Homo sapiens: one gene and its partners. The protein of the gene in region 3 interacts with the protein of the main gene of each other region in a pairwise test. Each region holds a gene or a part of one and is shown on either strand. Other genes may lie near its edges. The genes, in order: IREB2, PHF20L1, TERT, U2SURP, SLC7A11, TEAD2 and GLIS2.

What was found.
Region 1: the proteins of TERT (region 3) and IREB2 interact in a two-hybrid assay, tested with the Homo sapiens proteins (one study listed by BioGRID).
Region 2: the proteins of TERT (region 3) and PHF20L1 interact in a two-hybrid assay, tested with the Homo sapiens proteins (one study listed by BioGRID).
Region 4: the proteins of TERT (region 3) and U2SURP interact in a two-hybrid assay, tested with the Homo sapiens proteins (one study listed by BioGRID).
Region 5: the proteins of TERT (region 3) and SLC7A11 interact in a two-hybrid assay, tested with the Homo sapiens proteins (one study listed by BioGRID).
Region 6: the proteins of TERT (region 3) and TEAD2 come close enough for resonance energy transfer, tested with the Homo sapiens proteins (one large-scale study listed by BioGRID).
Region 7: the proteins of TERT (region 3) and GLIS2 come close enough for resonance energy transfer, tested with the Homo sapiens proteins (one large-scale study listed by BioGRID).

What each region holds. Positions count from the first base shown.
Region 1 is NC_000015.10:78,444,716-78,448,215, reverse strand, and holds part of IREB2 (iron-responsive element-binding protein 2), read right to left. Parts: intron 1-3,500. UniProt on the Homo sapiens protein: RNA-binding protein that binds to iron-responsive elements (IRES), which are stem-loop structures found in the 5'-UTR of ferritin, and delta aminolevulinic acid synthase mRNAs, and in the 3'-UTR of transferrin receptor mRNA.
Region 2 is NC_000008.11:132,816,888-132,820,387, reverse strand, and holds part of PHF20L1 (PHD finger protein 20-like protein 1), read right to left. Parts: coding exon 3,312-3,500; intron 3,050-3,311; coding exon 2,843-3,049; intron 1-2,842.
Region 3 is NC_000005.10:1,264,069-1,267,568, reverse strand, and holds part of TERT (telomerase reverse transcriptase), read left to right. Parts: intron 1-1,033; coding exon 1,034-1,105; intron 1,106-2,976; coding exon 2,977-3,165; intron 3,166-3,500. UniProt on the Homo sapiens protein: Telomerase is a ribonucleoprotein enzyme essential for the replication of chromosome termini in most eukaryotes. Active in progenitor and cancer cells. Inactive, or very low activity, in normal somatic cells.
Region 4 is NC_000003.12:143,032,570-143,036,069, forward strand, and holds part of U2SURP (U2 snRNP-associated SURP motif-containing protein), read left to right. Parts: intron 1-214; coding exon 215-377; intron 378-701; coding exon 702-781; intron 782-2,318; coding exon 2,319-2,406; intron 2,407-3,412; coding exon 3,413-3,500.
Region 5 is NC_000004.12:138,221,850-138,225,349, forward strand, and holds part of SLC7A11 (cystine/glutamate transporter), read right to left. Parts: intron 1,476-3,500; coding exon 1,350-1,475; intron 1-1,349. UniProt on the Homo sapiens protein: Heterodimer with SLC3A2, that functions as an antiporter by mediating the exchange of extracellular anionic L-cystine and intracellular L-glutamate across the cellular plasma membrane.
Region 6 is NC_000019.10:49,342,756-49,345,416, forward strand, and holds part of TEAD2 (transcriptional enhancer factor TEF-4), read right to left. Parts: intron 644-2,661; coding exon 476-643; intron 1-475. UniProt on the Homo sapiens protein: Transcription factor which plays a key role in the Hippo signaling pathway, a pathway involved in organ size control and tumor suppression by restricting proliferation and promoting apoptosis.
Region 7 is NC_000016.10:4,322,567-4,326,066, reverse strand, and holds part of GLIS2 (zinc finger protein GLIS2), read right to left. Parts: intron 1,420-3,500; exon of another isoform or gene 1,292-1,419; intron 798-1,291; exon of another isoform or gene 713-797; intron 1-712. UniProt on the Homo sapiens protein: Can act either as a transcriptional repressor or as a transcriptional activator, depending on the cell context. Acts as a repressor of the Hedgehog signaling pathway. Represses the Hedgehog-dependent expression of Wnt4.

The DNA of each region.
Region 1 (3,500 bases), on a different chromosome or scaffold from region 3:
CTGAGATCATGCCACTGCACTCCAGCTGGGATGACAGAGCAAGACTCTGTCTCAAATAAATAAATATATACATACATACATACATACATTGCCATTGAGAGAGTCTGAGGAAGCAGAAAACAAAACAGATTCCTGCATAAGATTTTGTTTTTTCACCTGTACTGGCACGTCCTCAGAATGCCTATACCACAGCCCTCTTTCTAAAAAGTTCCTTCTATACCAATTGCTGGTGGGCTCTGTGTAGCCTTGCCATCCTGGCATGAATAGCTGGGACCTGGAGCCAGCCTTCCAACAGACAACCAATTTACAGTCTGGCCAGTGGCACAGGGAGTTCGCCAAGCACAAATGTCATGTCCAATAGGCTGCCTCAGCCTCGTTCTGTGATACCTTGAACTTGACTTAGGGAGAAGGCAGAAAACAGATGGAAACAAAAAAGAACCAAGAGAAAAAGAAAAGCAGAATAATGGGCCGGGCATGGTGGCTCACGCCTGTAATCCTAGCACACTGGGAGGCCAAGGCAGGAAGACTGCTTGAGGTCAGGAGTTCAGGAGACTCCCGTCTCTATAAAAGATAAAAAAAAAATCAGAGCGGGAGTGGTGGCTCACGCCTGTACTCCCAGCACTTTGGGAGGCCGAGGCAGGTGGATCATCTGAGGTCAGGAGTTTGAGACCAGCCTAGCCAACATGGTGAAATGCCATCTCTACTAAAAATACAAAAATCAGCCAGGTATGGTGGCACGCACCTGTAATCCCAGCTACTCAGGAGGCTGAGGCAGGAGAATTGCTTGAACCTGGTAGGCGGAGGTTGCAGTGAGCCGAGACGGTGCCACTGCATTCCAGCCTGGGTGACAGAGCAAGAGTCCGTCTCAAAAAAAAAAAAAAAATTAGCCAGGTGTAGTGGTGTCTTCTTGTAGTGGGAGGCTGAGATGGGAGGATTGCCTGAGTCCAGGAGGTTGAAGATGCAGTGAACTATGACTGCATCACTGTACCCCAGCTTGAGTAACAAAGAGAGATCCTGTCTCAAAAAAAAAAAAAAAGAAAGAAAGAAAAGAAAAAGAAAGGAAAGCAGAAATAGGGAAAATCAGCTAAGCCAGAATCATGGGTTCTATGCATGCCTACTGAAGGGAACAAAGAGTCTGATCTGACCACGCACTCAGATCCCCTCAATTTCCTTATTTCCTTCAAATCTTCACAATAAACCCCCCAATTTAATGTAGAAGAAAGTTTTTTTTCTTCTCTTCATTCACTGACAGAAATTGAGCCAACAAGAAAAATAATATCTACTATTGATGAAGGTGCAGAAACACATATTCTTCTCATTCACTGGTAAGCATGTAAACTGGCATTCTTTGCTAACACTATACAACAGATGTCCTTCATGGTGCCTGTCCAAACTGCTACAGTTCTCGGTGGCCTGTGGCCTCCTTGGCTACAGCAGCGACGCAAAAGCCAATCCCCTGGTAGGCTGATGACCAAAAGTCTTGTGAGAAAGGAGACACTGGGGCAATTAGATTCACCTCTCAGAAATGTGTAATCAGGACACAGAGAGACTGAACTGGAAAGGTGTTAAGAGCTAAGCTAGGGACTGAGGTTGCCATTTGAGGCCATGTACAAAGTGAGCAGGCAGAGGAGGCTTGTCTATAGTGAAGTGGAGGAAGCAGAAGAGTGGAACAGGGCAGAAATCTGAAGCTCCTAAGAGAAAATAATAAACAACTTCCTTAATTCTGGGCCACCACCATTTTCTTGAGAGACAGCCACATTTCATTGGCCTGGGGAGCGCTGTATCATTACAATAAATCCTTCTTCACTCGAGCTAGTGTCTGTTCCTTGGAACCAAAAGGGCCTAATCTAGAATAGAAATTGGCAATAAAAACAAAGTTGAAATGTGGAGGGTTGGTGAGCACATGGCTATACATGGACTAGTAGGATGATGTTAGGTAAAGGTAATCCTTGGAAAGTTATGTACTATGTGTACAAATTACAAGCAAACTGTTACATTGCTTACCCAACCCAGTCTTTTCAAGAGTCCACATAAAAGACAAGATGAACAGATTTGTGTCTCTACCAGCAAGATCACCAGACCGGCAATAGACTCCTGACAAGTGCAGTCAAAATAGGTTAAAACAACAGGTGAGCTGGATACAATGGATCACACCTGTAACCCCAGCACTTTGGGAGGCTGAGGCAGAAGGATCACTTGAAGCCAGGATTCAAGACCAGCCTAGGCAATGTAGGGAGACCCTGTCTCTACAAAACATTTAAAATTTAGCCAGGCATGATGGCATGTGCTTGTAGTCCCAACTACTTGGGAGACTGAGGAAAGAGGATCACTTGAGCCCGGGAGGTCCAGGCTGCAGTGAGCCATGATCGAACCACTACACTCCAGCCTGGGCAACAGAGCAAGACCCTGAGGGAAAAAACAAAACAAACAAAACAAAACAAGTAAAAGAGTCACCTAGAGGTACACTCTTAACCGGTTAGTAATCCAGTCATAACATACAAGAATGGTCAGCAGTGGCCATATTGGGCATTATACAAAAATGAGTAAGTGAAGTAGGCTGTAGAGATGGAAGACTGGATATTCAAAAAGAAACAGAAAATAAGGAAACCAGGCAGCCTTTAAGTGACAAACAGAACACTGCCTCTGGCTTAGAAATTCTGGTTCCCTGAAACTTGACTATGCTTTCTTCCTTTGTCTTTGGATGTCTGGAAACTGCAACCTATTTTTTACTTGAGTGAGTTTTTGTTCTTTTTAGTCCAAGGTAAAGACTGGAACCAGACCGGGTGCAGTGGTTCATGCCTGTAATCTCAACACTTTGGGAGGCCAAGGCAGGTGGATCACCTGAGGCCAGGAGTTCCGAGACCAGCCTGGCCAGCATGGCGAAACCCTGTCTCTACTAAAAATACAAAAATCAGCAGGGTGTGAAGGCATGGGCCTGTAATCCCAGCTACTCCAGAGGCTGAGGCAGAAGAATCACTTGAACCCAGGAGTTGGAGGACGCAATGAACTGAGACTGTGCCACTGCACTCCAGCCTGGGCAACACAGCAAGACTCTGTCTCAAAAAAAAAAAAAAAAAAATAAAGACTGGAACCAACAGTAAATAGTGAAAGTATAAAAATAAAAGCGTGTGATGGGGTGGAGGAAATAACATACTTTCAATCCAACAATTCTATATAATGATAAGTTTGCACAAAAATGTAAGTATTAGCACATACAAAGTTTATTTATAAATAGAGAAAAGTTACTATCAGCCTCAATATTCAAAGGTCTGTTAACTAAACCACAATGCATTCATACAGGCAATATTGTGCAGCTATTAGAAGCCACAGAGAAGTACAGGTATCCCTTTCTACCTGAACTCAAGCTCCCTGACTCAGAAACCAAGTAGATTCAGATAGCAAGGGATACCTGTATTCAATGACATGGAAAGATGTTCATGATATATTAAGTGAAAAAAAGGGTTACAAAACAACATATACTTTATTTTTATTAAAAGTAG
Region 2 (3,500 bases), on a different chromosome or scaffold from region 3:
TGTTGACAAGGGGCAATAGATAACTGTTGGCCCAAGGTGCCTGTGAGAACCTGAACCAAGAGTATTTTTCAAAAGACCCCTTTTCAAAAAACTTGATTTACTCTATCCTCCCAGATACTAACAGAATTAAGATTTTCTGAGGCTGTATCCTTATCTAAAATTGGCTGGCTCTGTGACAAAGCATCCTGATAGTAAAATAAAAACAAAGGCATCAATTTTTACAAAGATACCAATTACTTGTTTGGTAATGTAGGCAGCAATAGCATTCTTAACAGTGGCTAGACATGTGGGCATCCACCCCAGCAGAAGAACATACGAGAGATTATTGCAAGTTCATTATCTCTATTGGAAAACAATTAAGAAAAGTTGTATATAATAATTGGACTATCTGCAAATCTCATCAATCCTTCAGCATCAAATGCTAAACTCAACAGTGTGAATTTATCTTGCTCCCCCAAAAGTAAAAACCTAACCATGTTGAACAATTTCACAGTTAGCAACTAACACCCTCATCATTCTAAACTCCCCAAGAGTTTCAATTTGACAAAAATAACTCAGAAAATGTCTCTGACGAACTGTAAAGAATGTTTTCAATTATCAGTTTTAAAATTCAACAGTAAGAAAATTTACTTTTATAATATGGACACCAACAAAACATACATGTGTGTATGAGTATGTGCATATATGTACATATGTATCAGAGAAATAAAAACATAAAAACCTGGCACTTTGGCTCTAGATGTAAAAGGACTTGGGGAACAGACAGAAGCATAACAAATACTGCAAAATAGTCAAGAGAGGGTGAATAACAAAAAGGTTAAGGAGAAAAGCATAGAGACCACCGAGAATTTCAATGCACGTGGGACAGGCACACAAGGTTGTAATCAAAAGGTGTTCAGTCAGAACATGACCTAAATTGCACTACTTTCCTCAAAAACTAAAAATTAAGAGGTCACAGAAACAAATGAGAATTTCACCTCCCTCTATTCAAATACTGTGTTCAACCCTCTAATAAATCTTCAGTAATTAACAATTAAAACTATGCATTTCCTTGCTATAATCAATTAAAGTTGACAGCTACTGTACTATTAAGCTCATCATATCCAGATAATCCTTACTCTTCCACAAATTCAAATTATAGCTAAACTCCTCTCTACCTTTTACTTTCCCAGAAAACGATCTTACTTATTTTACTTTTCCAATAGTTACTGCTAATATTTAAAAAGGGAAAGAATATTCGTGTGCCTTCCTCTAAGGTAGTCAGCCACATTGCCACAAATATGCTAGAAATTCTGAAAAGAGGAAGTTAATAATCTGGTTAGAAGCAAAATCATCGAAGTCAAGGACTTCCATGCACAATCACTACATTGATATTTTATGATATATAATCTGTTAATGTAAGACTCTTAGTTATTACACAGTTACTTATATTGGCCTATATTTCAATATTGTTACAAATATTAGAATACTTTTAAAGAAAAATGTAAATATTTTCACATGTACATTTGAAAATAATTTTCCCAATGTATATACAACCTTATAACTTTAACATATTTTTCATATATTCAGTACGGTAACAAATTCCAGATCGTTAAAGAACCGAATAAGACCTTTATCAAAAAAGTATCTCAATGGGTCAATGACAATTTGGAAATCTTGTGGAAAAGTGGAAAAGAAAAATTAATTATCTTAAGGAAAGACCAAGAGTCAAAAGACAATAGATCTGATTTGAGAAACTACAGGAAATGTTTCAAAATCTACAAATATTCACATTTGGGTATTGTTTTATTTTTTTAAACATGATAAAGAATTATCATGTACAAAGTAACTTCAACCTTTATATAAAGATAAAAATTAATAAAAATAAGTATATGTCTCTTATGTTACTTCAATCATTTTATTTCAATACATGCCATCACCAGAAAAGAATAAGTTTCATTTTATGCTTCATCCAAAAAATGGATAAAATGGTTTCAGGGAAGACGCCTGTAAACACAATGATCACCAACACCCTTGGTAACGAATCAACAAACTGCCTTATGTTTTTCTCCAACTCACAACAAACTAAATTCAGACTTCCTTCAAACATCTAGTTCCAACAGTAATTTACCAGAAGTGCATTTGTAACTAGTATTGGCCTTTTTATTTTATGTGTATTCTAGATCAGGTTATAATTCTTAAAAACTTCTAAATAAAACAATGCACCCACATAAGGGAAACATGAATAGATATTATTAGATTTAAAATATCAGCTTGGTAAAATACACATCCAAATGCTTTCGAACTACAATAAATATCACAAAATCATGCAAAAAATGTGTTATTAAGGATGGCTGATTTTACATATTGCACTCCTCAAATAACTTTACAGCAAATTTAATTCAATTTGGAGGATTCTGCCCCAAAATATGGAATTATATTTAAGATACAGGCATATAGCTCAGTGTTTCTTAAATATTAAATTCTATCAAAATCCTTAAACCAAAGTACTGATCCCATTAAGTATTTCCCAGCTTCAAAAGTAAGAATTCCTGTAACTATACTTGGCTCTAATAATTTATATTTAGTAGAAATAAGGATATATAAAAAAGAAGCAGGGAGAAGGAAATAGATCAAGTGACAAGGTTAAGCAGCATGTATGTCCAGGGAATATGATTGTAAAATGATCACACAAAAGACCTTTAAAACGGAGATGAAACTCTCCTATAAATGTTAAAGTATTTATGAAAAGGAATTATATAGGAATCAAAATAATGTAGTTAAACCTCAAAATGTTTATACCTAATAACTGCAAGCCTAGCTACTTATCTACTTATAGGAGCCTTTATTTTTTTTCTTTTACCTGCTGCTGCTGGAGCTCCTCTTCCATCAGCTATTGCTTTGGAAGAAGGATTTGGAAGCATCTGTGTATCCTCTTTTTCTGCCCTGGGACATTCATTACGGTAAGAGGAATCTGAGGCTACCGGTGCTGTAACTTCTGAACCACGACTTAAGTCAAGAGGGAGACAGGGTCCCAGCTTCTCAAGTGGCAAATGTGCAACATCAGGCACTACACAAAATAAAGAGTGTAATGTAATATTAACACAGATAAAATGGCTCAGTTACTATCACTGTGAATTAAAGTGTTACATAATTTAAACAGTGCCTGGCACAAAGAAGGCACTCAATAAATATTTGTAGAATAAGTGAAGTGCTTATAACTCCAGAAGATATAAGAGCAGAAATATCTTAATATTTTAATAATCTTTATCTCTTAGTTTTTTCTTTATCTTCTTTTATGTTTGGTTCTATAGGAAATCAATATACATTACCCTCTGGTACTGAAGATTCTTGCTGATTTTGAGAACTGATGGAGAATACTTTCCCATCAGTGGCTGGAGAGGGAGAAGAAACCTTTTCTACAGAATCATCAGGCATGGGTAAGGTGGCTAAACGCTGAGATCTTCTTCTCCGCTCACTATGCTTGAAAGGTCTAGGGGGATTCACAGGCTGTGGAGGAC
Region 3 (3,500 bases):
TTTGCTACTGTGAATAGTGCCGCAATAAACATACGTGTGCATGTGTCTTTATAGCAGCATGATTTATAATCCTTTGGGTATATACCCAGTAATGGGATGGCTGGGTCAAATGGTATTTCTAGTTCTAGATCCTTGAGGAATCACCACACTGTCTTCCACAATGGTTGAACTAGTTTACACTCCCACCAACAGTGTAAAAGTGTTCTGGTGCTGGAGAGGATGTGGACAGCAGTTATTTTTTTATGAAAATAGTATCACTGAACAAGCAGACAGTTAGTGAAGGATGCGTCAGGAAGCCTGCAGGCCACACAGCCATTTCTCTCGAAGACTCCGGGTTTTTCCTGTGCATCTTTTGAAACTCTAGCTCCAATTATAGCATGTACAGTGGATCAAGGTTCTTCTTCATTAAGGTTCAAGTTCTAGATTGAAATAAGTTTATGTAACAGAAACAAAAATTTCTTGTACACACAACTTGCTCTGGGATTTGGAGGAAAGTGTCCTCGAGCTGGCGGCACACTGGTCAGCCCTCTGGGACAGGATACCTCTGGCCCATGGTCATGGGGCGCTGGGCTTGGGCCTGAGGGTCACACAGTGCACCATGCCCAGCTTCCTGTGGATAGGATCTGGGTCTCGGATCATGCTGAGGACCACAGCTGCCATGCTGGTAAAGGGCACCACGTGGCTCAGAGGGGGCGAGGTTCCCAGCCCCAGCTTTCTTACCGTCTTCAGTTATTTTTCCCTAAGAGTCTGAGAAGTGGGGCCGCGCCTGATGGCCTTCGTTCGTCTTCAGCTGGCACAGAATTGCACAAGCTGATGGTAAACACTGAGTACTTATAATGAATGAGGAATTGCTGTAGCAGTTAACTGTAGAGAGCTCGTCTGTTGGAAAGAAATTTAAGTTTTTCATTTAACCGCTTTGGAGAATGTTACTTTATTTATGGCTGTGTAAATTGTTTGACATTCAGTCCCTCGTAGACAGATACTACGTAAAAAGTGTAAAGTTAACCTTGCTGTGTATTTTCCCTTATTTTAGGCTGCTCCTGCGTTTGGTGGATGATTTCTTGTTGGTGACACCTCACCTCACCCACGCGAAAACCTTCCTCAGGTGAGGCCCGTGCCGTGTGTCTGTGGGGACCTCCACAGCCTGTGGGCTTTGCAGTTGAGCCCCCCGTGTCCTGCCCCTGGCACCGCAGCGTTGTCTCTGCCAAGTCCTCTCTCTCTGCCGGTGCTGGATCCGCAAGAGCAGAGGCGCTTGGCCGTGCACCCAGGCCTGGGGGCGCAGGGGCACCTTCGGGAGGGAGTGGGTACCGTGCAGGCCCTGGTCCTGCAGAGACGCACCCAGGTTACACACGTGGTGAGTGCAGGCGGTGACCTGGCTCCTGCTGCTCTTTGGAAAGTCAAGAGTGGCGGCTCCTGGGGCCCCAGTGAGACCCCCAGGAGCTGTGCACAGGGCCTGCAGGGCCGAGGCGGCAGCCTCCTCCCCAGGGTGCACCTGAGCCTGCGGAGAGCAGGAGCTGCTGAGTGAGCTGGCCCACAGCGTTCGCTGCGGTCACGTTCCTGCGTGGGGTTGTTTGGGATCGGTGGGAGAATTTGGATTTGCTGAGTGCTGCTGTCTTGAACCACGGAGATGGCTAGGAGTGGGTTTCAGAGTTGATTTTTGTGAATCAAACTAAAATCAGGCACAGGGGACCTGGCCTCAGCACAGGGGATTGTCCAATGTGGTCCCCCTCAAGGGCGCCCCACAGAGCCGGTGGGCTTGTTTTAAAGTGCGATTTGACGAGGGACGAGAAACCTTGAAAGCTGTAAAGGGAACCCTCAGAAAATGTGGCCGCCAGGGGTGGTTTCAGGTGCTTTGCTGGGCTGTGTTTGTGAAAACCCATTTGGACCCGCCCTCCAAGTCCACCCTCCAGGTCCACCCTCCAGGGCCGCCCTGGGCTGGGGGTATGCCTGGCGTTCCTTGTGCCGCAGCCCGGAGCACAGCAGGCTGTGCACATTTAAATCCACTAAGATTCACTCGGGGGGAGCCCAGGTCCCAAGCAACTGAGGGCTCAGGAGTCCTGAGGCTGCTGAGGGGACAGAGCAGACGGGGAACGCTGCTTCTGTGTGGCAAGTTCCTGAGGGTGCTGGCCAGGGAGGTGGCTCAGAGTGTATGTTGGGGTCCCACCGGGGGCAGAACTCTGTCTCTGATGAGTCGGCAGCCATGTAACAGGAAGGGGTGGCCACAGGGAGCTGGGAATGCACCAGGGGAGCTGCGCAGCTGGCCGAGGTCCCAGGGCCAGGCCACAGGAAGGGCAGGGGGACGCCCGGGGCCACAGCAGAGGCCGCAGGAAGGGAAGGGGATGCCCAGGCCAGAGCAGAGGCTACCGGGCACAGGGGGGCTCCCTGAGCTGGGTGAGCGAGGCTCATGACTCGGCGAGGGAACCTCCTTGACGTGAAGCTGACGACTGGTGTTGCCCAGCTCACAGCCCAGCCAGGTCCCGCGCCTGAGCAGGAACTCAGAACCCTCCCCTTTGTCTAAAGCACAGCAGATGCCTTCAGGGCATCTAGGAGAAAACAGGCAAAGTCGTTGAGAAACGTCTTAAAAGAAGGTGGGATGGTGGCAATTTCTTGTCCAGATTTTAGTCTGCCCCGGACCACAGATGAGTCTATAACGGGATTGTGGTGTTGCCATGGGGACACATGAGATGGACCATCACAGAGGCCACTGGGGCTGCACCTCCCATCTGAGTCCTGGCTGTCCCGGGTCCAGGCCAGGTTCTTGCATGCTCACCTACCTGTCCTGCCCGGGAGACAGGGAAAGCACCCCGAAGTCTGGAGCAGGGCTGGGTCCAGGCTCCTCAGAGCTCCTGCCAGGCCCAGCACCCTGCTCCAAATCACCACTTCTCTGGGGTTTTCCAAAGCATTTAACAAGGGTGTCAGGTTACCTCCTGGGTGACGGCCCCGCATCCTGGGGCTGACATTGCCCCTCTGCCTTAGGACCCTGGTCCGAGGTGTCCCTGAGTATGGCTGCGTGGTGAACTTGCGGAAGACAGTGGTGAACTTCCCTGTAGAAGACGAGGCCCTGGGTGGCACGGCTTTTGTTCAGATGCCGGCCCACGGCCTATTCCCCTGGTGCGGCCTGCTGCTGGATACCCGGACCCTGGAGGTGCAGAGCGACTACTCCAGGTGAGCGCACCTGGCCGGAAGTGGAGCCTGTGCCCGGCTGGGGCAGGTGCTGCTGCAGGGCCGTTGCGTCCACCTCTGCTTCCGTGTGGGGCAGGCGACTGCCAATCCCAAAGGGTCAGAGGCCACAGGGTGCCCCTCGTCCCATCTGGGGCTGAGCAGAAATGCATCTTTCTGTGGGAGTGAGGGTGCTCACAACGGGAGCAGTTTTCTGTGCTATTTTGGTAAAAGGAAATGGTGCACCAGACCTGGGTGCACTGAGGTGTCTTCAGAAAGCAGTCTGGATCCGAACCCAAGACGCCCGGGCCCTGCTGGGCGTGAGTCTCTCCAAACCCGAA
Region 4 (3,500 bases), on a different chromosome or scaffold from region 3:
AATTGGAATCTTATTCTACAGAGTATTCTTATATAAATTCTTCAAAAAATTGTAACAATTTTGGGGGACACAACACAAATCAGACTGAATGTATTACAGTCTTCAGAATTATTTTATGTGAGTAGGTTTTAAAGAAATTAGTTTGTGAGCAAAAGCTACAATGGCATTTGAAATTGTATCTAAATATTTATAAGTTAAAACAATTTATGTTCAGACAGAGGGATAAATTGGAAGAAATCTTGCGGGGATTAACTCCAAGGAAAAATGATATTGGAGATGCAATGGTTTTCTGTCTTAATAATGCTGAAGCTGCTGAAGAAATAGTGGATTGCATTACTGAGTCGTTGTCCATCTTAAAGACACCCCTTCCTAAAAAGGTATGGGAATGAATTTTAAGAAAAGGGGAGATAGTTGACGTCTTTTGGGATTAGAATTGGTTTCCTTTTTGCACAAAGCACTTGACTGATGAGATTTTTCCCATGCAGTCTTATGTTATTTCTGCTTGGAAATTTAGGTTCATTAACATACAAGTTAACAAACAAGTTGAAATGTAAATGGGTTAACAAATTTCATCTCTGCCAGAGTCATAGTTGTGGTGATACTGAGCTTCATATAACTCTTCTAATTAGTAGCCATAATTAAATTATAGCTAAACATTAGCCTTATATTAACCTATTTTGTGTTATCTTTTGATATTATAGATTGCCAGATTATATTTGGTTTCTGATGTTTTGTACAACTCTTCAGCCAAAGTTGCTAATGCTTCATATTATAGAAAATTGTAAGTATAATGATATAACTGATATTCCTGAAATAAAGTATTTAAGGGTAAGGAGTTCAGAAAAGAGGATTGTTTTGTTAACATCCTGCAAGAATAAGAAGTACAGTCAGCCCTCCATGTCTGTGGGTTCCTTATCCATGAATTCAACCAACCATGAATTGAAAATATTTGAGAAGAAAAATTGTATCTGTACCGAACCTGTACAGACTTTTTTCCTTGTCATTTTCTAAACAATATAGTATGAAAACTCTACATAGCATTTACATTGTATTAGGTATTGTAAGTAACCTAGAGATGATTTAACAGATGGGAGGATGAGGATAGGTTACAGGTGAATATTATGCCATTTTCAATCAGGAACTTGAGCATCTGTGGATTTTGGTGTCCATGGGAGGTCTTGGAACCAGTCCCCCCATGGATACTGAGGGAAGACTAATTTGAATTTCTTAATGGTTTGTAGAATTTTTTAAAAAATTGGCTTACACTTAAGCTAAATTACCAATTTTTTGGAAAGATTTTATATCATATCACTTTCTTAGCTATTGACAGTATAACAAATAGGTGTTAAAGAGAACTTTATTGCATATCTAGCTATTCATATAATAAATAGAAACAGTGTATATACTGGCAAACATAAGAGACCAAAGACATACTATTAACTATAGAATCTGTGTTCTCTTCTGATCCTCAGCATATTGATTTTAGTTCATTGTAAATGTTTCCTAAGGCAAAAGGAAGTTACGTTGCTGTATTATAATTAATGTATAATTCAGCTGGGCACAGTGGCTCACGCCTGTAATCTCAGCACTTTGGGAGGCCAAGAAGGGCTGATTACCTGAGGTCAGAAGTTCGAGACCACCCTGGCCAACGTGGTGAAACCCCATCTCTAGTAAAAATACAAAGATTAGCTGGGCGTGGTGGTGTGCCTCTGTAATCCCAGCTACTCGGGAAGCTGAGGCAGGAGAATCGCTTGAACCCGGGAGGCGGAGGTTGCAGTGAGCCGAGATGGCACCATTGTCCTCTAGCTTGGGTGACGAGCAAAACTCCATCTCAAAAAAAAAAAAGTATAACTTTTCCTCTGTTCCCCAGAGCTCTCTTTCTGTGTTTATTTTATGAATTAGGCAAAGGGAAGCTTTTCCCTAGGATGTTGCTCTGAAAAGAAATTTAGAGAGCTGGATCCTACTCTTAGGTCTGCTATTAGTTTTTTTGCCTTGGACGAGTCACTTTTCTAAGTTTTCTGTTTTATAAAATAAAGAAATTGGACGAGATGGTTCAGCATATCCTAGATATAACGTTTCTTGCTCGTAAAGGGAACTAGTAGGGACTGTTGGGGAGTTTGTAGGAGAAAAATTCAGAGTAATAAGAGTTCAAGCAATTCAGTTACGGTTTTAGAGTTTAAACACCTAGTTTTTGATTTTTAATAATTTCTTGATTTGTAAGTATTTTAAGTTCAGGAGGGGTTTTCATTGGCTGGCATGCTAAAAGGGAAAGGAATTTTAAACATTTTATTTTAAAGAATGTGTTATTTGAATTTCAGTTTTGAAACAAAGTTATGTCAGATATTTTCAGACCTCAATGCCACCTATCGTACAATTCAAGGCCATTTACAATCTGAAAACTTTAAGGTACGTTTATTGTTTTACTATTTTTGCCCTAGTGTTTTAAATGGGTGGGGGGAGGGCATTGAAGGGCTAGAAAAGTGCATAAGACAAGTATGAGACATAAATTTAAAACTTAGATGTTACAGAAGTTACTGTTTTAAAATTCTGTCGTTTTTGTTTTTATCAAATCAAAAATTTAAAAGATACTATTTTGTCAGGTTTAATTTTAGTTTTAAATATTGTTTAAAAATTATAAATGTTAGTCTTTTTTCATAAAACATACAGAAGAATCACTTGTTTTGTAATGGTATATACTATTTGGCTGGATTAAAGACATACATTTTAATCATGTTTAGAAAGTCTATTCTGTTACCAATTTTTTTATAACCTCTTAAGCTCTAGACCAGTGTTAAGAAAAGCCAAGTGTAGTACTTCACTTATAATTGAATAAGTAAATATGCTTTCATGGGAAGAAGACTTTTTTAAGAAAAATTTTTAGTTTCGGAAGATGCCCAGTGACGCCACCATTTAGGGCATTCAGACAACTCCCATTTTAAAAGTTTTTGACCTTAAATTTTGACCATAAGTTAGAATTTAAAGACAAGTTTCAGGAAGATACAGAGTAAAGTATTAGCCAGAATTAGGAAGTACTTTATTGGACCATAAGGGATTCAGGTCAAAACTTGGCTACTTTGGTTTCCAGTTTTAGTAAGTTTCTATGTAAGTGTTTCTGGAATGTGGCTCATGGGTAGTACTAATGGTATGGGAGCTGACCTTAGGTGGTAAAGAGCAAATAGTTACTGTTTATTTTTCATTATATTTATTTTTAGGGGTTTTTTTCCTTTTAATTAGAAGGTGACATTGATTTTTTTAAAAAATATGGTAATGATATATAGTTATTTTCTTTAAAGTTTAAAAAAACATCAGTTTAAAGGCAAATTTAGCAAATCTTGATGATCATTCTCATGAACTGAAATTTGAGACATATAGCCCAAAATAAAAGTTTGTTGTCTGTTTCCTGTTTCTTTAGCAACGGGTAATGACTTGCTTCAGAGCATGGGAAGATTGGGCAATTTATCCAGAACCATTTTTGATCAAACTACAAAATATTTTCTTAG
Region 5 (3,500 bases), on a different chromosome or scaffold from region 3:
TTGGAATCTAAACTAGTATTAAAGAACAGCCAATGACCCAGAGATTCTGCACTTTTCAAATACTGAAGAAACTCCTTACAGAAGACTGAAGAGTTAGCTCAGAAAAATAAAGCACTAACAAAACAGATTATTGTGCCTACATTCCTAACGAATAAGATAGAAATGAGCAGGCTAGCTCTGTGGAGGCCAAGGTGTATTAGAAGAGCAAGCTCCTGTCTTCTCTTCAGTGCAAGCTCTAACGGTCAAAATCTTCATTGTGTTTATTCTGCATTGGCTGCTGTTGCTGGATTTCATAAAAGCATTTCCGCCAGCAGGGCTCTAAAATCTCCCACTAGGCTTATTAAATGGGCAACAGCAGCTCCCTTTCCCAGCTCCAGAGTGGCTGATCCTTCAGTGTTTGTCATTATTTAATGCTTCTACCAACAGTGATGATTTTACCAAACGCTGGCATTTCCTTTTGCCTTGTGTAATTCTTCTGCAACGTCATTAAATTTCTCTAGATTCCCTTTCTTGGAACAGACAATATCAATGTAAACATTAAATACTTAACATGCCCAAGTTATGTCATTCCTTTACAATTTCTTCTCACTTTATTTCCTGCTATATTCCTGTTGCTAATTAAATACCACATGTGAATCTCTGTCCTCCAACAATTTCCACTGAATCCAAGCAACTGCATGTGCCTTCTTTCCTAAAACAAAAACTCTAAATGTCACCTCTCAATTTCTTTTTTTAAATTAAATGTTAAACTCTATAAAGCAAGTAATCGCAGAAATGCGAATTTTATATTAAAAATAATGTAACAATAAAAATTAAGTTTTTACAACTATTTTATTGTGATATAATTTTGGTGTTTAGGAATGCTGTTCCCGTATTGACTCCTCTGTTGAGGATACCACTCTCAATTTAAAAGGAATAATAACCAGAAAGTCAAAGAATTATTGATCATCTTTTATCACTTTCCAGATACCTTTTTCTCTTTAATTTTTATTACTATTATTGGACAATTTTAAAGTAAAAAAAAGACATATTTATCTTTAATTAAAACTAAGTGGCAGGTTTTTTTTTTTTCCACTTCGAGTTTTCACTCCAAACCATTAAACCTAGAAAATTCACTGATGCCTTATTTTGTTGCATGGCCCATTCTTAATCCTCTTTCTGCCATTCAACTGTAAAAACCAACTCACTCACAATGTAGCAGCCTTTCAAATCAATTAGATGACAATATAGAGTTTAAGTTCCACAGGCAGAGACTAATTAAGGATTCTGTTAGTACAAGCAAAAGTTAGTGTTAAAAAAGACCAAAAGCAGATACGTATTTTAAAAAGCATTTGCTTTTCAGTCCATACCTTTAATTAGCTGCATAACTCCAGGGACTATAATTATCAGAATTGCTGTGAGCTTGCAAAAGGTTAAGAAAATCTGGATCCGGGCGCTCCAGCTGACACTCATGCTATTTAGGACCATCACTACAGCTGCAAACAAATAGAGGAAGTTACAAAAGGTGAATTCTCACTGGCACAAAGACATTTTAGGTCCTTGTTACTCAAAGGGCAATCTGTGAGGCAGCAGTGTTGACATTACTTAGAAGTGTTTTAGAAATGCAGAATCTCAGGCTCTGCCCCAGGCCTAATGAATACAAATCTACATTTCAACAGGTTCTCCAGCTGGTTTTTATGCACATTGAAGTTTGAGAAACATGGATAAAGCCTCTGGACAATAAGAATTCTTCTCTTGTTCTTTGTATGTAAGAGTGGACATATATTGTAGTACTCTAACAATCACATAAAAATGTCTTCTAACCAAACCCAGCATCCAATCAGATGGCTGAATTTCACTGTCTAGCTTGATGTGACAACTCTTTCCTGTCTCTATGATGGTATGCCTGCCAATGTGGATCACACTCAAGAAGGAGCAAGAAGTGTAGAAGTTGGCTCAGATCTTATTTTTCACTCTCAGGACTAGCCTCAGGCAGCACTTTTCTTTTGGTTGTCTTCTTTCTAATTAGCATGTCAAGGGGCGACTTTCAACCCACCGTACAAGTATAGTTTTTCAAGATATGTTTCAGGGCTTCAGCACAATATTCTAAGTGATGAGTGCAAAAGACTAACCAGGCTAGAATGCACATTGGGTTCAAAGCCAGAAGAATTTTTCATTCTTACTGATGCTGTCTACAATTTCCCAAGCAGCAATAACTATCCACCTTCGACACCTTGTGGACCATGAAAACCTCAAGGATAGAGCAAGGGTTATTCATCGCTGTATCGCTGGTATCCAGCTCCATGCCTGGCCCAGGTAACTTAATACATTTTTGTTGAATGAATGAACTGGATCCTCAGTTAGAAAATCTAAGGCACAAGGGAAATGGTGATGCTCTAAGACCTTTCTCCCCTACTCTGCTGGGATGACTGAGGTTATTCTAGACAGTGGTTTTCAACTTTATACTCTTTCCACAACCTTATGCTTGGAACAACCCAAAACACTACTTTATTCCTGACATTTACAGTTATTAACTATAACCTTTATATTTATAAAGGTATATTCTCCCTAAACAAATATTTAAAATGTAAAGATATTTCTCAAAGAATGAAACAAAACTCCTACAGAATTCTTATTATTCAAATTGAAATTGGAAGTTTTCCTTATATATAGTAATGAGTCCGCCTCACAGTTTTCACTGCCTGATATAGTTACTAGCTCACTTCAGAATTTAACAATCAATGCAAATGTCAGCAACACATAATCTTTAAAGGCAAAAAAATGGAAATAGCCTAAACCTCCTAAAGGAAGGCTAATTAAGGTATATCATTTTAATAGTTTATATGCAGCCACTTAAAATTATGAGGCAGTTAAATATTTATTACAAGAAAGGATATTCATGATATATTACTGATCAATACAGCAAGTTAGAGGAATGGATGGAAAGAAGGAAGGAAGGAAGAAGGAAAAGAAGGAAGGAAGGATGAAAGGAAGGAAGGAAGGAAGGAAGGAAGGAAGGAAGGAAGGAAGGAGAAATAGATCTGGAAACATATTTACCAAAACATCAACAGCAGGTGTTTATAAGTGATAGAACACTAAATAATTTTCAATTTTTTAAATTTATTTTTAGGAATAGTTTAATAAATTTTATGATGAACATATAGCATTTTGGTGGCTATAGTTTCAAATACTGAATTGTATACTTGAAATATACTTAAATGTTCTCACCACAGAACAAAACAAAAAAAAGAGGGGTAACTAAATGATGTGACAGAGGTGTTAACTCACTTGATTGAGACAATAATTTCACTATATATATATATATATATATATATATATATATAAATAAAATCATTACATTGTACACCCTAAAATTACAATTTTATTTGTTGTATATACCTCAATAAAGATGAAAAAATTTTCAAAAGTAAATGAAGCAATAAAATACATTTTGTTTTTGGAAAAAACTCCAAGATGGGAAAAATAAGGGATCAGAAGATCTCATACAAAGTGAAATACAG
Region 6 (2,661 bases), on a different chromosome or scaffold from region 3:
TCGGAGATCCGAATCAGGATCTCTGAGCCTGCAAATCACAAGCCCCTCAAAGTGATTCTCTGAACCCCCAAAGACCTCTGGACTCCTCTAACCTCCCAGCCCTCAGATACCCTCCAAAGACCCCTCCATGACGTCTTCAAACTCTGACTTCTAAACTTGAGACTTCCCCAAGTCTCCAGCAACTGTAAGTGTGACTTCTGAACCTTCTTGCCCTAAGAACCTCTCCATATCCATAAGACCCTTCTCAATCTCAGTGACTCTAAGTCTCTATACTACACATTACCTGTCAGCCCGCAGAATGATCCCTGCCTGTGACTTCTGAACTGCCCATTAGCTCCCAACGCATGCATTAAACCCTCAAAGAGGCTGGGACCCACTCCCTCCATGCATACTCCCAAATGCCTGAGTCATGATGGCTTCTGGTCCATTCTGCACCCCCAAGTGCTGACCCAGAGCTCCACCCCTCCAGCCTCACCTCCACCTTCTCCACCACCTGCTTGCCAAAAGAGCAGACCTTGGAGGAACAGGTGAGGGTCATGTGTTCCAGGCTCTCATACTGGCTGCTCACTCCGTAGAAGCCACCACTGCTGATGCTGCCACCGGCCCCTGCCTCCTCACCACTTGGGCCCCAGTTCAGGTCCGCCTGGGAGATGGGAAGGCACAGATGAGTCAGAGGGGACATCCCTTATAAACAGTGGGGACTACCAGGCGCAGTGGTTCACACCTGTAATCCCAGTACTTTGGGAGGCCGAGGCGGGCGGATCACCTGAGGTTGGGAGTTCAAGACCAGCCTGACCAACATGGAGAAACCCCATCTCTACTAAAAATACAAAATTAGCCGGGCGTGGTGGTGCATGCTTGTAATCCCAGCTACTGGGACACTGACGCAGGAGAATCACTTGAACCCGGGAGGCAGAGGTTGCGGTGAGCCGAGATCATACCATTGCACTCCAGCCTGAGCAACGAGAGCGAAACTCCATCTTAAAAAAAAAAAAAACACAGTGGGGACTCTGCCCCATAGCCTACCATTACCCCTGCAGTTCCCGGCTTGATTCTTCAGTGTTGTTTTGTTTTTTTGTTGTTTGTTTGTCTTTTTTTTTGGGGGGGGGGGAACAGGGTCTTGCTCCGTCACCCAGGCAATGTGTGGTGGTACAATCACAGCTCACTGCAGCCTCGACCTCCTGAGCTCAAGTGATCCTCCCATCTCAGCCTCCTGAGTAGCTAGGACCACAGGTGCATGCCACCACATCCAGCTAATATTTTGTATTTTTTGTAGAAACAGGGTTTCACCATGTTGCCCAGGCTGGTCTCCAACTCCTGGGCTCAAGCGATCCTCCCACCTTGGCCTCCGAAAGTGCTGGGATTACAGGCATGAGCCACCGCGTCAGGCTTTCAAAGTTCTCCAAGGGCTGGTTTCTGGAGAAGATCCACCGTCCATCAGCGTTGAAGAAGTCTGGGTCCCCAAAACAGTCTTGGCCCTGTCTCCCCAGTAACCAAAGGAGCCCTGGAATTCAATTTCAACCTTTTTTCTTTTCTTTTTTTTTTTTCTGAGATGAAGTCTCGCTCTTGTTGCCCAGTGCAATGCCGCGATCTTGACTCACTGCAACCTCTGCCTCCCGGGTTCAAGCGATTCTCCTGCCTCAGCCTCCCAAGTGGCTGGGATTACAGGCGCACGCCACCATGTCTGGCTAATTTTTGTATTTTTAGTAGAGACAGGGTTTTGTCATGTTGGCCAGGTTGGTCTCAAACTCCTGAACTCAGGTGATCCACCCACCTAGGCCTCCCAAAGTGCTGAGATTACAGGCATGAGCCACTGTGTCCAGCCAATTCAACCTTTTTCCCTTGAAGCCCGCAACTCAAGAGTTCAGCCCCTTCCAAGGGCCTGGTTACTATGGCAGTTACTTCTTAGCAACCAGTTCAAGATGAATACCTCCCTCTAAGCCCCTCTCACTCTGGTTGCTAAGGCAAGTGGCTACTCCCTAGCAACGGGACCTCACGGAGCCTGAGGAGGCCTGACTCCTCCTCAGAGCACTTCCCCCTCGGCCAAATCTGAGAGGTCAGACTCCCTCCATGACCCCAGTGGCCAAGTGTGTGTAGACAGCTGGCCAAGTGTCACTAGGCCAAGTGGGGCCTAAGGAAGCCTAAGAGCTCATCACACCTTTGGTCTGAGTCACCTCCTTGCGAGGCGCACCTCTTCCTCTTCCTAACTTTAGTTGCTAACACTGTGCCAGGTCCGTCTTCTCAGGGGCCCGACTCCATCTCTCACCGTGGCAAAACCAAAGACCTTACCAGCTGCTCCTCTGAACCCCTTCAGCAGCTGGGCTTCCTAAGGGGGTGGCTCTCCAGTCCTGGGACCTGATAAGGCCTGTCTTAAGCCCCAACAATGTCTAAGCCCTCAGCTGCACATCCCCAGAGCAGTTTCAGGCTTCTGCTTCACATGGCAGAAAGCTCCAGAACCGTGAACAGCAAGCTCCAGAACAACAACACTCCCAGCAAGAACAGTAAAGTTCAGGCCCTCAGCAGGCCTTTCCTTCCTTTCCTTCCTTCCTTCCTTCTTTCTTTCCTTCTTTCTTTTCTTTCCTTTCTTTCCTTCTTCCTTTCTTCCTTTCTTTCTTTCGGCAGGGTCTCATTCTGTCACCCAGGCTGGAGGGCAGTGGCACA
Region 7 (3,500 bases), on a different chromosome or scaffold from region 3:
TAGGGTTTCACCGTGTTAGCCAGGATGGTCTCGATATCCTGACCTCGTGATCCGCCCACCTCGGCCTCCCAAAGTGCTGGGATTACAGGCGTGAGCCACCAAGTCTGGCCTTTTTTTTTTTTTTTTTTTTTTTTTTTAAGACACAGAGTCTTGCTCTGTCTCCCAGGCTGGACTGCAGTGGCGTGGTCATGGCTAACTGCCGCCGAGGCTCAAGAGATCCTCCTGCCTCAGCCTGCAGAGCAGCTAGGACCACAGGTGCACCACCACCACACCCAGCTCATTTTTAAATTTTTTATTTTGCAGAGATGGGGGGGTCTCCCTGTGTCATCCAGGCTGGTCTCGATCTCCTGGACTCAAGCCATCCTCCTGTCTCTGCCTCCCAAAGTGCTAGGATTACAGGCAGGAGCCACCACGCCCAGCCCGTCATCTTCTAATTTAACAGAAAGAGGAAGTGAGTCCCTGGTCACTCCTGAACCAGTCAGAGAAACCCTGGTCTGTGGGTGTCCCTGAGTCTATTACTGGAACCATCACTTCAGCAGTATGGTCTTACAGATGGGGAAACTGAGGGCTGAAGGGGGAGGCATCCAGCCCAGGCTGCACAAGTAGGTGGCAAACCCACAACCAGAAGCCACGGGCAAGCAGCATGAGGACAGTACCCATAGCCAGGTGCGGGTACTGTGAAGGCAGGTGCTGTTTCATCCCCATTTTACAGATGCAAAAACTGAGGCTCAGGGGAGTGAAGTGACCCATCCAAGGTCCCACAGCTTGTCCGTGGCAGAGCTGGGTTTCAACCCCAGGTAAGTCCAGAAGCCATGTTCACTATTGGCCCTTCCTATGTCAGGGGCTCAGGCTTGGTACCCCCTCCCCGCCCAGGGACTTGTGGGGCTAGGAGGGATAGCAGAGCAGGCAGTGGGTGGGCGCTGGAGGGGCTGGCTGGGGTGGGGGGCCCACCAGGAGGCTTGGAGAGCCGAGGGCAGATCTGCTGCCAAAGCAAACGGCCCCACAGCCCCAGATTCCTGGGAACCAGCTGCGGCTCCCTGCTCTGGCCAAGAGCTCCACCCTCCTTGGCCGCCCAGCAGCAGGGGCTGGCGGGCAGGGGCAGGGCCTGCTGGGGGCCCCAGGCAGGAGGGCTCGTCCTCTCAGGGCCCCCCTTCCTGACCAGGCAACAGAACCGGACTCGAAATCTGGGGCCCCACCCGGCTCTGCTACTCCCTTTGCGTGTCTCTTCAGTCTGCGCCTCATCCCCCTCATCCCAAATGGGATTATATAGGACCCCCATGTTGGGTTTCAGGGAGAAACCAATGCAGTGCTGCACATCCAATCACTATTGAGTGCTTCTCCTTCGTCCGTAACGTTCAGCACGGAGAACAGTGCCTGGCACATAGTAGGTGCTTAATAAAACGTGCTGAATGAATCGTCGCCAGTGTGCATGAGTCCATAGCCTTTGGCCCATCTACCGCTGTGAGGGCAGCTGAGTGGGGACTGGCCATCCCCTCTATGCCACTGCAGTCTCACCCTGAACCAGGAGAACCTGGGCTCTGCCACCTGCCAGCCAGCGTGCACCCTAAACAAGCCTATGCCCCTCAAAGAACCTCAGGCCTCTTCAATCCTGGGGAGTGACCACAGCTGGCCCTAACCACCTTCCAGAGCCCAACTGCATCAAAGAAAGAGCACTACAAGGCCCCGGGAAGGCCTGATCAACCCTGGAAGGAGCTGGCCGCAGACAGGCCTCCTCCCAGGACTGGAGGGGGAGGAGCTTATCCTGAGGCCTGGCCCAGCAGATCCCAGGAGAGGGGCCAGGGCAGGCGGCACTTCCTGGAAGAGTGGGGGATTCACCGTCCCTGGGAACCTTTGGCTCAGTAGGCAGCCCCTCCCCCTCCCAAGACGGGGCACTCAGCCAGCACCCCCGGACCTTTTGGGAGGGCAGACCCCCTCCCGGGGTGGGAACACAAGGGGTCCGAGGTGACCCAGCCAGGGCTGACCTCTGCCCTCTGCCGTGGGGTCCTCGGGAAAGCACCTGAAGATGGGATGTGCCAGGGATCTTTTTTCTGCGTGTTCACAGAGTGTGCCCCAGGGCCAGGCTGCCTGGTTACAGCCCCCTGTGCCACCCCTGGCTGTGGGAACTCAGAAAGGCCCTGCTGTCTCTGAGCCTTGGTTTCCTTGTAGGTAACAGACACCACGGCAATGGTCCCTGGGACTCAGGGCATCTTGCAAGGGAGGGCCTTGTCCTCATGCCTGCCATAAAGAAGCTGCCAGCTACTGGTAACCTAAAGGATTCTTGTTTCCGGCCCCAGGCTGGGGGTTCCCTGCACAGCAACTTGGGCCTGCCAAGGTCACCCAGATAATTCAGGCAGAGCTGAAGCTGGAAGACGGGCCGGAGGGCTTCCCTGGCCTGCACCAGCCCGGGCTTCCTAGGAGATGCCCCACCAGAGGCACTTCCTTCTCCAACGCCAGCAGGGAGGGTGACACCGGGCTCCGGGAGCCCCGGCACACACACGCACACTCACACAGATGGCCATGGCAGTCCAGCTGCAGGGCCGGCCTGGCACAGAGGCCTCCCCATCCTGGTGGCTCCGGGCCCCTGCTGCAGTGGCCTCCACCCCCCCGCTGCCTGCCCGCTGCTGCACCTTTGCACAACTATGTCTGGTATTTTCCTGTCTGCCCAGCTTTGGGGGGGTGCTTGGAGCTATGATCACCGCCTGCACCTGGGCCCCAGCCAGAGGAAAGCCCGCCCCGCAGCCCCCACACCTGCCCACCCACCCGGGCTGGGAGGGGAGGGGACCAGAGCACTGGGCCCTGCCACCCAAATCCCTGGGAGGGGCTGGCACCAGGGAGCGAGACAGGGATGCACGCCCAGCAAGGCTGGGGCACAGACAGCCCAGGCCCTGCCAGGCGGCACTGCCATTCTCAGCAGACCCAGCCAGAGCTATCTGAGGCCAGCAAAGGGATGGGCCAGTGTAGCACAGGACATGAGCAGGCACCCACAGCACCCCCGGATGTACAGACACCTGTGCACAAATGTGGCACACACAGGACATCACAGTAACCCCTTGCCCCAGTGTCGGGGCCAGGACTCAGGAGCCTTGGCTTCTGGGGGAGAGCAGGGATGAGGCCGGGTCCCCAGAGCGAAGGAAACACCGCGCCTCCCAAGCCACGCCTGGCTGCAGGCAGATCCCACAAGGAGCTCCTAAGTCCTGGGGGGTCGGGGCAGGCCCGTGGCCCACGCCTCCCCTGCCTGGGGCCAGGTACCAGGTCCACTGGGAACGGCACCCGCCAACTCCGAGAGCAGGAGTGGGTAAGGCGGGCGGTGGACCTTGGCCTGCCCTCCTGCCTCGGTTCTCCAACCACGCATTCATGCATTCCAACGCCAGGCCCTGCTAGATCGAACCGGACCTTGAGGGTGCCCCGACCAAGGTGGGGTGGGAGAAACAGTGTAGGGGGGGGGCTGCTCCTGCAGGGGGTTGGGCACAGATCCGGGTCAGCCTCATGGATATGGGGTG